Homo sapiens: one gene and its partner. The protein of the gene in region 2 binds, or shares a complex with, the protein of the main gene of each other region. Each region holds a gene or a part of one and is shown on either strand. Other genes may lie near its edges. A codon is read from its position in the direction of its gene.

Region 1 (4,178 bases), on a different chromosome or scaffold from region 2:
TCATACCCTGTAGTAGCAACCAGAACCCCTCACTTTGGCTCAGTCTTCCCAAGATGACCAAGTAAGTACTCATCAACTTCATCTTCACTTCAACTCATTGACTGGTCCACTTGAATAAGGGGAAAACGAACCAGAGAAGTCAAGTAAGTGTACCAATATACTCTGGGTGTGCATGTCACAAACCTCCTACCCGAACCTTCCCACACAGACGGGTCCCCTCCACCCACAGCACTCTTGACATTTAAGACCTCATCACAATCCATGATGCTTCAAAAATGTCCAGCCTACTACCTTTCTGTGCGTGTTTCCTTTGTAAAATGGGGATAATAATACTTACCCACATGGGTTTGCTGTGGACGAAATGAGTTCATGCTATGGAAAGCCTTAAGACACTACTAAGCACACAGTAAGTACTTTCTAAGTAGTAGCTATTACCATGATTATTATGATTCTTATGATGCGTCTCTTCACAAGGGGCCCGGCATTCAGTAAGTGGTAAATGAATGAGCAAATGCTAAAAGCACTGGTGTCTGGCTTTGTTCCCTTTACTGCGGAGACACGTAACGCTCTGATTCCTCTTCTTCTCTATTCTCCGTGATGTCCAGCACTATTGTTAGTATACAGTAGGCGTTAAGTGTTGAATAGATGTTCACACGAAAGGAATACCTTCTGAGTCTGTTCCCTCACTCAGATGTCCTCTTTCTACCAGCCCTCCTCCACCCTAGATGCTCAGACTCAGCTTTAGCATACAGCAGGCGCTAATAAGTGTTGAATGAATGAACAAATTACCAGAGGAAAGTGTCTGGATTTGTCTTGGGGGCTCCTCCGGGCGGATACTGACTCTAGCTTCTTTGCCCCTCCTCAGCTCAGAGCGCAACACAGGCACTTCCTCGGCCCGCCCCCCGCCTCGCCGAGCTATTTGTCGCTGGTAATTGTGGCATTGGAGCTGGGCTGTCGGGAGTGGGTGGGTGCAGGTGCTCGGGCGGCAGGGTGCCAGCCTCGGCCACGCCTCTGCCGTTCATCCTCGACTGACGCGGAGTCGGAGTCGGCCGGCAGAGGCTCCTCCAGGGTTCCGGCTGGTGGGAATCTAGGGAGGTCCAGGAGACGGGGAGACAACGAACAAGCACGCCGGCCAATCAAGAAGTGCCTGCCAGGACAAGTAGCCAATCAGGAAACCCGTAACGCGGAGCTCTGCAGAGGAACGTGCCGGGCGGCCCTGAGGCTCTAAGGGGGCTGCGCAGGGCCCAGACATTGGGGTTATGGCAGCGGCGGGGAGAGGCTGGGACTGCACACTCGCTTTCACTCCTGCCAACCTGCGACCACAGTGGAAAATACTGTTTTCCGCAACAGGCTGCTGTGTCTTGGCCCGTGCTGTGCTGTTTGCCCTATGAGATGCTATCACCCTACTTTTGGGGAAGGGGATAGGTTGTTTTTCCTCCTTTAAGGAATCGTAGACGAACTCGAAGAGGCTAGTTTATTGAGGTTTGGAAGGTCAGGGGGCTCAGAGTGGAGGAGAGAAGTGTTAGAGTTCCTCTTCCTCAGGGTCTTTGCAAGCAGGCACGTGTAGACATGGTCGTTTCTCCTCCACCACCAGCTTCTGCCCTTGTAGCTCCTCACACCGTGGCAGCGGTCTCCCCCAGAAGGTCACGTTCTTCTCGCCCTGACCTTCGACCATGGAAACGGTGGGCCTGAGGCATTAGGGGTGGGGAGGAACGGAAGGGAGAATCTCAGGGAAGGCAAGAATGCATTCAATTCTTATTGAGTGCCTGCTATATGCCGAGGGCTACTTTTTTTTTTTTTTTTTTTCCTTTTTTTTTTTTGAGGCAGGGTCTCACTCTGTTGCCCAGGCTGCAGTGCAGTGGCACAATCATAGCTCACTGCAGCCTCAATCTCCTGGGCTCAAGTGATGCTCCTGCCTCAGCCTCCCAAAGTGTTGCTGGGATTACAGGCGTGAGCCACTGTGCCTGGCCTCCCAACACTACTTTTTAGCTATAGGATATTGGGCAATTTCTTTAGCTTCTCTGTGCCTCGGTTTCCCTCATCTGCAAAATGAGAATGGTAGGAATAGTAATATTAATACTCACCTCACGGGGTTGAATGAGGATAAATGAGTTAATTCAGGTAAAGTGCTCAGAGCAGTGCCTGGCACACAGCAAGTGCTCAATAAATGCTGGTGAATGTTACTTGTTGGCATGAGCTACTTTCTTTTACCTCCGAAATATATACCCTTTATATCTCTTTCCACTGCCTCCAGGAAAAAACCCAATGCCTTGTCCTGACATTCAAGGCCTTATTGTTGGGCCCAAATCCCTGCCCCAAGCCAATCTCTCTCTCTGTCTCCTCCACTTTATTCAAGCTCAGTCCCTGTCCAGAAAGGTCTTTACCTGGGTTATTTGTCCCACTAGGAAAGCCCTCCATTCACTCCCATCCCAGTTCTCTCAATTGCTTCTTCCTCCACTCAGTCTCTCGCTCACTCAAGTCCTTTGTGCCTCCATTCAACACCTCTAATCTTCAGGCCCCACTCTAACCCCCTCAGCCGGGAGATCCCTTCCCAGATGGCAGCCCTTCCACGAGCTGGGAATAGTTCACTTAATCTAGTAGCTTGATGTATGTGGAAGGAAGAAAAGGGATGAACATTTTAACCCTCTCTAACACCTGGGCCCCTCTGGCACCTGGAAACACTTATAGCGGCTAATCACCTAGCTCCAAGGCTCCGTTCACAGTCTTGATGCCAGGAATGCCTTTCCCAACCCCTACCTGCCCTGGGAGGCCCAGTCAGCTTCCTGGACCTAGGTTGAGGTGGCAGCACCTGTTGCATGCACCAGCTGTTCCTCATATGCCTCCTGTCAGGGGCTTGCTCAGCTGGGTCCCTTGGAGGATCCACAGGATCTGGGCTGTGTGTATCTGCAACTGTTGCTGAAAAAGCCTTGGAGTGCCTTGGCTCAGTGAGATGCTGACAAAGTGGATGGAGGCATGAGTGACTGTGGGAGGCAGGCAGTGAATGGAGGCCTGAGTGATGGCAGCTAAAAGCATGGGTAACTGAAGGTCGGAGTCAATGACACATGAAGGACTAAGTGGATGAGTGACTGAACAGGTGACTGAGGGGCACAGAGGCTACGAATTATCCTCCAAGAACTTCTTTCTCATCTTCTTAGTTTCTCCCCACTTCCTGCAGCTGGGAGGTGGCACTCGGCAAGGCAGATACCTTAGATTCAGCAGTGGAAACCCTGGTTTCCTGGGGTAGCCGACTCTCCCGCCTGTAATATAATGACCCCCTCCCAGGCATACTTTGCCCTCTCACTCACGGGTACTTGGGGAGCAAGGGTGTGCAGAGGCGCTGGCGGGCACGGGTAGGATTAGGTCCACAGGGGGGCATGCACAGCCCCCAGGTACTCCACTCTGACCATGATCCTTTCACTGCAATGAGGGGTAGGGGTCACAGAGTCAGAACTGGAGGTCTTGGTGGGAAAGTGAGAGGGAGGCTGCAGAGACGTGAGGTCCACAGCAGAGAGTTGGAAACCCCTTATCCTGCATGGGCCACCCCACCCTCAGAGCACAGTCTGTGGGACACTCACAGGGGCAGTGCTGGATGCTGTAGCAGTGCCGGATATCCTGCTGTTGCCCGGCACATCGATGTCCGTCAAACTTGCGGCCCCTGCAGGTCCTCCCGCGTGACTGCTGGCCCGGGATTTCTTGACAGCTGATGGACTTCATGTTCCGTCGGATACAGGGGCTCCACTCCCCCCACGAGTCCCACTCCCCATCCACTGCAGAGACAGGGCAACAGGGGATTGGACCAAAGCAGGGAATCAGCAAGGGGGTTCAGAGGAAGGAATGAGGGCGGTAGGAGGGAGTAGAGGTGATCAGATGTGTGAATGGGGGACCAGGGGTGGAAACAAGGTATCAGGGCCAGGAAAGGAGGAATCAGAGACAGGAACAAGGCCTCAGCAGCAGGAGCTGGGCAGCAGAGAAGGGCAAGGGGGACTTAGGCATGCAAATCGTGAACCCTGAGATGCTGACCAGGGCAGGGCACAGCTGTGTTGCAGATGTGGGTCCGGGTGGCATCGCCAGCACAGAAGGGGCCCCCATGCTGGGGCACAGGGTGATTGCACGTCCGTTGTTCCATGGTCTGGCCCAGGCCACAGGTCACAGGGCAGGGGCTCACAGGGCCCCAAGGC
Region 2 (7,724 bases):
CTGTCTTCAACTCGCCTTCTTTTCTGTGTGTGCCTCTGTGTCATTACATGCTGTTCTCTTATATAGATAGGAGACCCACTACCTGTGTCTTTGTGTCCAAATTCCTTTCTTCTTTTTCTGTTCATTTGTTTGAGACAGAGTCTCGCTCTGTCACCCAGAAGCCCAGGCTGCAGTGCAGTGGCGGGATCCCGGCTCACTGTAACCTCTGCCTCCTGGGTTCAGGTGATTCTCGTGCCTCAGTCTCCCAAGAAGCTGGGATTACAGGCATGTGCCACCATGCCCGGCAAATTTTTGTATTTTTAGTAGAGACATGGTCTCGCCATGTTGGCTAGGCTGGTCTTAAACTCCTGGCCTCAAGGCGATCTGCCTGCCTTCGCCTCAAAAAAACTGCCGGGATTACAGGCATGAGTCACCACCATGCCCAGCCAGTTCACTTTTTTTTTTTTTTTTTTTTTTGAGATGGAGTCTTGCTCTGTTGCCCAGGCTGGAGTGCAGTGGTGCAATCTCGGCTCACTGCAACATCCGCCTCCCGGTTCAAGCGATTCTCCTGCCTCAGCCTCCTGAGTAGCTGGGATTACAGGTGTGTGCCAGCATGTCTGGCTAATTTTTGTATTTTTAGTAGAGACAGGGTTTCACCATGTTGGTCAGGCTGGTCTTGAATTCCTGACCTCGTGATCTGCCCGCCTCAGCCTCCCAGAGTGCTGGGATTACAGGTGTGAGCCACCGTGCCCGGCTCACCTCTTCTTTTTTTTTTTTTGAGACGGGGTTTTGCTCTTGTTGCCCAGGCTGGAGTGCAATGGCGCGATCTTGGCTCACCACAACCACCGCCTCCTGGTGATTACAGGTGTGAGCCACCACGCCTGGCTCTGGCTTACCTCTTCTTATAAGGACCTCAGTCATTGGATTAGAGCTCACCCTAATCTAGTATGACTTAATCTTAACTTGATTACATCTGCAAAGACCCTTTTTCCAAATAAAGTCACAGATACTGGGGATTAGGACTCGAACACATCTTTCTGGGGGACACAATTCCACCATTACAGGGAATAAACAGGATAAGAAAACCATAGAACCCAGCAGGTGGTAGGTGACACAAGCTAAGGGGTGTTGCCATGTTGCCCAGGCTGGTCTCAAACTTCTGGCTTCAAGGGATCCTCCCACCTTGCCTCCCAAAGTGGGGATGAAAGTTTGTCTGGGGCATTGCAGTTTTAGACAGGAAGACCAGGGAAGGCCTCACTGAGAAGGTGACATTTGAGCCAAGACTTAAAAAGGTACGAAAGTGAGCCATGTGGAAGTCTGGGGGGGAGGAGTGAACTAGGCAGAGGCACAGCTGGGCAAAGGGCCTGAGGTGTGACCATGCCTATGGATTTGAGGAACTTCAAAGAGGCTGTGTGCTGCAGGAGAGTGAAGGGCAGGGAGTGGCAGGAAATGAAGGCAGACAGGTAGCAGTGGGGAGGACGCAGGGGTCCAGCTCATGTAGGTCTTGATTGGACACAGTGAGTTTCAGATGACAGCCTCCTGTCTCATGGGGTAGCCCCAAAGCCACAGGAGTCTGGTGATTTCCCTCTTCCCCACCAGACATCTATGCCATCGGGGTGGGCAAGCTGGATGTGGACTGGAGAGAACTGAATGAGCTAGGGTCCAAGAAGGATGGTGAGAGGCATGCCTTCATTCTGCAGGACACAAAGGCTCTGCACCAGGTCTTTGAACATATGCTGGGTGAGTGAGCTTTGCCCTCCTTGGTGTGGGGAGGATGGTGAGGAGCCCGCCAGAGGCCCGTGTTGGGAACCTGGACACAGTGCCCCTCACTTGCCTCCTTCCCCATCTGATCCTCACACCCACAGATGTCTCCAAGCTCACAGACACCATCTGCGGGGTGGGGAACATGTCAGCAAACGCCTCTGACCAGGAGAGGACACCCTGGCATGTCACTATTAAGGTACCAGGAAGGAGGGGCAGGGCTTGGATTCCAGAGGTAAAAGCGGCCATGGGCCAGACATACTGCAATCTCTGAAAATCACCTGTTCCCCTGCAGCCCAAGAGCCAAGAGACCTGCCGGGGGGCCCTCATCTCCGACCAATGGGTCCTGACAGCAGCTCATTGCTTCCGCGATGGCAACGACCACTCCCTGTGGAGGGTCAATGTGGGTAAGGCAGGGGATGCACCAGCCTCCTGATCCTGAAGCCACAGATCCTACCACCTCACCCAGCCTCTGGCCCCTGCAGGAGCCCTGGTCTAGCCTAATCTAGTGTATCATTTCCAGGAGACCCCAAATCCCAGTGGGGCAAAGAATTCCTTATTGAGAAGGCGGTGATCTCCCCAGGGTTTGATGTCTTTGCCAAAAAGAACCAGGGAATCCTGGAGTTCTATGGTGATGACATAGCTCTGCTGAAGCTGGCCCAGAAAGTAAAGATGTCCACCCATGCCAGGTGCCTGGAGTCTGGGATGGGAGGGTGCCCTGCAGGGAAGAGTGCTCTGGAGATCCCTGGAAGAGATACTGGGGACAGGCTGGTGTGACCCTTGCTCTTCTCCCCAGGCCCATCTGCCTTCCCTGCACGATGGAGGCCAATCTGGCTCTGCGGAGACCTCAAGGCAGCACCTGTAGGGACCATGGTGAGTGCTGGGACTTATGGTGCTTGAGAGCTGGGGCCGGGGTTTGGGGGTGATAACAAGGACTAGGCTGCAGTCCCCAAGCCAGGAACCTGGATTCTGGGTAAAAGGACCAGCACCAACATCCCCTTCTCTTGACTATAGAGAATGAACTGCTGAACAAACAGAGTGTTCCTGCTCATTTTGTCGCCTTGAATGGGAGCAAACTGAACATTAACCTTAAGATGGGAGTGGAGGTGAGGGTCTCAGGTTGGGGATGCTGGGATCCCCCTGTGACAGCTCCCAGAATGTCTCTCTTCCTTCTCCAGGTCTGGCTGCTTTCTCTCTCTGACGCGGGTCACCCCTCCTCCCAAGCCTCACAAACCTGCTAGGTGTCCCTGGGTCTGCTTATTCTTTTTTTGTTGTTATTGAGATGGAGTCTTGCTCTGTCTCCCAGGCTGGAGTGCAGTGGCACGACCTCAGCTCACTGCAACTTCTGCCTCCTGGGTTCAAGCGATTCTCCTACTTCAGCCTCCCGAGTAGCTGAGATTACAGGTGCCCACCACCACACCAGCTAATTTTTGTATTTTTAGTAGAGACGGGATTTCGCCATGTTGGCCAGGATGGTCTTGAACTCCTGACCTCAAGTGATCTGCCTGCCTCAACCTCCCAAAGTGCTGAGATTACAGGCGTGAGCCACTGCACCCACCCGGGTCTGCTTATTCTACCCTTCTCTCTGGTTCCACCCCTGCTGCAGTGGACAAGCTGTGCCGAGGTTGTCTCCCAAGAAAAAACCATGTTCCCCAACTTGACAGATGTCAGGGAGGTGGTGACAGACCAGTTCCTATGCAGTGGGACCCAGGAGGATGAGAGTCCCTGCAAGGGTGAGTCCCTCACCATGCCTGGATTCCCAAGGGGAAGGCCACCTGTGTCTCTGTGGCCAGCATGCATGCCAGAACACCAGTCCACTGCCCTAGATGACACTGTCTCCTGTCACCCTTTGCTGGCAGGAGAATCTGGGGGAGCAGTTTTCCTTGAGCGGAGATTCAGGTTTTTTCAGGTGAGAAGGTAGAAGCTTGCAGGACCCAGGGGTTACAGGATCTCAGCCTTGTTGGGGGGATGAGGGAGGCCTTTGAGGGATCTAGGGAGGTTGGGGCTTACAGTTGGGGCTGTGGCAGCCTCCCAGCCAGTTCTCTCCTTTTCTCCAGGTGGGTCTGGTGAGCTGGGGTCTTTACAACCCCTGCCTTGGCTCTGCTGACAAAAACTCCCGCAAAAGGGCCCCTCGTAGCAAGGTCCCGCCGCCACGAGACTTTCACATCAATCTCTTCCGCATGCAGCCCTGGCTGAGGCAGCACCTGGGGGATGTCCTGAATTTTTTACCCCTCTAGCCATGGCCACTGAGCCCTCTGCTGCCCTGCCAGAATCTGCCGCCCCTCCATCTTCTACCTCTGAATGGCCACCCTTAGACCCTGTGATCCATCCTCTCTCCTAGCTGAGTAAATCCGGGTCTCTAGGATGCCAGAGGCAGCGCACACAAGCTGGGAAATCCTCAGGGCTCCTACCAGCAGGACTGCCTCGCTGCCCCACCTCCCGCTCCTTGGCCTGTCCCCAGATTCCTTCCCTGGTTGACTTGACTCATGCTTGTTTCACTTTCACATGGAATTTCCCAGTTATGAAATTAATAAAAATCAATGGTTTCCACATCTCTCAGTGCCTCTATCTGGAGGCCAGGTAGGGCTGGCCTTGGGGGAGGGGGAGGCCAGAATGACTCCAAGAGCTACAGGAAGGCAGGTCAGAGACCCCACTGGACAAACAGTGGCTGGACTCTGCACCATAACACACAATCAACAGGGGAGTGAGCTGGATCCTTATTTCTGGTCCCTAAGTGGGTGGTTTGGGCTTACTGGGGAGGAGCTAAGGCCGGAGAGGAGGTACTGAAGGGGAGAGTCCTGGACCTTTGGCAGCAAAGGGTGGGACTTCTGCAGTTTCTGTTTCCTTGACTGGCAGCTCAGCGGGGCCCTCCCGCTTGGATGTTCCGGGAAAGTGATGTGGGTAGGACAGGCGGGGCGAGCCGCAGGTGCCAGAACACAGATTGTATAAAAGGCTGGGGGCTGGTGGGGAGCAGGGGAAGGGAATGTGACCAGGTCTAGGTCTGGAGTTTCAGCTTGGACACTGAGCCAAGCAGACAAGCAAAGCAAGCCAGGACACACCATCCTGCCCCAGGCCCAGCTTCTCTCCTGCCTTCCAACGCCATGGGGAGCAATCTCAGCCCCCAACTCTGCCTGATGCCCTTTATCTTGGGCCTCTTGTCTGGAGGTAAGCGAGGGTAACCTTCCCTTCCTGCTGTCTCCAGCATCCCTCCTTGGCCTTTTGGGGCCAGGCTTCATCAGCCTTTCTCTTCAGGTGTGACCACCACTCCATGGTCTTTGGCCCGGCCCCAGGGATCCTGCTCTCTGGAGGGGGTAGAGATCAAAGGCGGCTCCTTCCGACTTCTCCAAGAGGGCCAGGCACTGGAGTACGTGTGTCCTTCTGGCTTCTACCCGTACCCTGTGCAGACACGTACCTGCAGATCTACGGGGTCCTGGAGCACCCTGAAGACTCAAGACCAAAAGACTGTCAGGAAGGCAGAGTGCAGAGGTTTGAGGGCAATGAGTGTGGGCAGTGGCCTAAGGCAGAAACAGGGCAGGCGGCAGCAAGGTCAGGACTAGGATGAGACTAGGCAGGGTGACAAGGTGGGCTGACCGGGAGTAGGAGCAGTTTTAGGGTGGCAGGCGGAAAGGGGGCAAGAAAAAGCGGAGTTAACCCTTACTAAGCATTTACCCTGGGCTTCCAGGCAGCCCTGGAAGTCAAGAGAACACTCAGAAATGGGGAGGGAGAAGCAGTGGAAATCCATATGGGTTGAGGAGTAGGTAAGATGCTGCTTCTGCGGGACTGGGAATGCGCTGTTTCTCAGTGACATGGTCTCCGAGACCAGGAGGGATACACCTAAGGCAGCCTTTCCCTCTTGATGACTTCTACTTGTCCCCCCTTCTCAAAGCAATCCACTGTCCAAGACCACACGACTTCGAGAACGGGGAATACTGGCCCCGGTCTCCCTACTACAATGTGAGTGATGAGATCTCTTTCCACTGCTATGACGGTTACACTCTCCGGGGCTCTGCCAATCGCACCTGCCAAGTGAATGGCCGATGGAGTGGGCAGACAGCGATCTGTGACAACGGAGGTGAGAAGCATCCCCTCCCCCTACATTGCTGTCTCCCTGACGGCGCCCAGCCCGAGGAGTGGGCACTCGGCTCCGGACACTGTAACTCTTGCTCTCTACCTTGCTCACGGGGCCTCAGGCTTCAGTGCTTACCTCGATGTCTCATACCTCTGCAGCGGGGTACTGCTCCAACCCGGGCATCCCCATTGGCACAAGGAAGGTGGGCAGCCAGTACCGCCTTGAAGACAGCGTCACCTACCACTGCAGCCGGGGGCTTACCCTGCGTGGCTCCCAGCGGCGAACGTGTCAGGAAGGTGGCTCTTGGAGCGGGACGGAGCCTTCCTGCCAAGGTGACCTTTGACCTGTACCCCCAGGTCAGATCCTGGTCTTCCATCCTACTGTCTTCTCTCCCCACCTCAACCCTGCTCTTTCCTCACTTTGTTTAAACCTCCCTGTACAACTATCTCACTTCTGAGCCTTTTATACCCTGGAAACCCATGATCCCCCGTCTCTTTGGTCACTGTATCCCTGACACTCCCAGACATTTGACCTCATTTCTGACTCTCCCAGACTCCTTCATGTACGACACCCCTCAAGAGGTGGCCGAAGCTTTCCTGTCTTCCCTGACAGAGACCATAGAAGGAGTCGATGCTGAGGATGGGCACGGCCCAGGTTTGAAGACAGAGAAGGGAGGCAGGGCAGGGAACTGGGGGAAAATGGAGAAGGGACAGAACTGTTAATGCTGGAGCCTGAGCCACTCTCCTGGCACCCAGGGGAACAACAGAAGCGGAAGATCGTCCTGGACCCTTCAGGCTCCATGAACATCTACCTGGTGCTAGATGGATCAGACAGCATTGGGGCCAGCAACTTCACAGGAGCCAAAAAGTGTCTAGTCAACTTAATTGAGAAGGTGGAATCCTCCTATCCCTGAACTCGGGGGAATGGAATCTCGCTGATCTTCCAGGACTAGCTCCCTGATCATTCCAGCCCCTCTGAACAACAGGGCCCCAGGAAAATCTCCAGGTCCTATTCTGTCCTCCTTCCCTTTTACTTGAAGCAGTTTCTTGACTGGTAATTCCTCCATGAACCTCAGCCCTTGAGCCTCTTACTGAGAGCCTCCCTGTCCCAGCAAAGTCGCTGAAATCTCCCAATCACAGTATTCTATTTTCAATGCCATGGCGCCTTGTTCTCCTCACCCACAGGTGGCAAGTTATGGTGTGAAGCCAAGATATGGTCTAGTGACATATGCCACATACCCCAAAATTTGGGTCAAAGTGTCTGAAGCAGACAGCAGTAATGCAGACTGGGTCACGAAGCAGCTCAATGAAATCAATTATGAAGGTCAGAGGTTAGGGAATGGTGGGAGGTTCACTTTGGGGTCAGGAGGTTCAGGGTGGAGGGGGTCATGAGACTACCTTGAGGGCGACAGGGAGGACCACTTTGTAGTCAAAAGTTGAACAGCAGGATCGTTGGGCAATGGAGGTTAGTGGGAACCTGTTGGGGGCTGGAAGGGCCACTTTGTGGTCAAAGGGAAGTCCGTGTAATGATGATTAACTTAAAAAGTTGAAAGATGTGGGATTTCAGTTGCAGATTGGTCTCTGGGGTTAAAAGATGGCTTGGAAGACCAGGTGAGGTGATGGTCTCTTCCCTCTCCACAGACCACAAGTTGAAGTCAGGGACTAACACCAAGAAGGCCCTCCAGGCAGTGTACAGCATGATGAGCTGGCCAGATGACGTCCCTCCTGAAGGCTGGAACCGCACCCGCCATGTCATCATCCTCATGACTGATGGTCAGAAGGGACCTCTCTCCTGTCCCAGCCTCCCCACCTTCTCAGACCAGCATGTGGCCCTTAAGTCCACTTGTAACACTATACCCATGGTTGGGGCCCTGAATGTGACTCATAGCTGGCTGTTCATCTCTCCTGTGACCCTT

The links. The genes of interacting proteins can lie anywhere in the genome.
Region 1: the proteins of CFB (region 2) and CFP are in contact, whole or in part, in a crystal structure (PDB 7NOZ), measured with the Homo sapiens proteins. Residues at the interface, in NP_001701.2 of Homo sapiens: Glu54 (codon at 5,088), Gln56 (codon at 5,094), Ser78 (codon at 5,160), Thr316 (codon at 7,042), Tyr317 (codon at 7,045), Leu349 (codon at 7,458), Ser351 (codon at 7,464), Met394; in NP_001138724.1 of Homo sapiens: Arg329 (codon at 3,723), Arg330 (codon at 3,720), Asn331 (codon at 3,717), Lys333 (codon at 3,711), Pro341 (codon at 3,687), Met420 (codon at 1,675), Val421 (codon at 1,672).

The regions. Positions count from the first base shown.
Region 1 is NC_000023.11:47,622,753-47,626,930, forward strand, and holds the end of CFP (properdin precursor), read right to left. Parts: coding exon 4,021-4,178; intron 3,768-4,020; coding exon 3,576-3,767; intron 3,418-3,575; coding exon 3,306-3,417; intron 1,689-3,305; coding exon 1,523-1,688; 3' UTR 530-1,522; downstream 1-529. UniProt on the Homo sapiens protein: A positive regulator of the alternate pathway (AP) of complement. It binds to and stabilizes the C3- and C5-convertase enzyme complexes. Inhibits CFI-CFH mediated degradation of Complement C3 beta chain (C3b).
Region 2 is NC_000006.12:31,941,381-31,949,104, forward strand, and holds the start of CFB (complement factor B preproprotein), read left to right. Parts: upstream 1-4,714; 5' UTR 4,715-4,841; coding exon 4,842-4,905; intron 4,906-4,992; coding exon 4,993-5,226; intron 5,227-5,626; coding exon 5,627-5,812; intron 5,813-5,967; coding exon 5,968-6,141; intron 6,142-6,361; coding exon 6,362-6,463; intron 6,464-6,564; coding exon 6,565-6,701; intron 6,702-6,993; coding exon 6,994-7,132; intron 7,133-7,449; coding exon 7,450-7,581; intron 7,582-7,724. Other genes in the region: complement C2 isoform 1 preproprotein, read left to right, coding at 1,579-1,719, 1,845-1,939, 2,036-2,147, 2,264-2,429, 2,537-2,613, 2,755-2,846, 3,347-3,473, 3,600-3,649 and 1 more.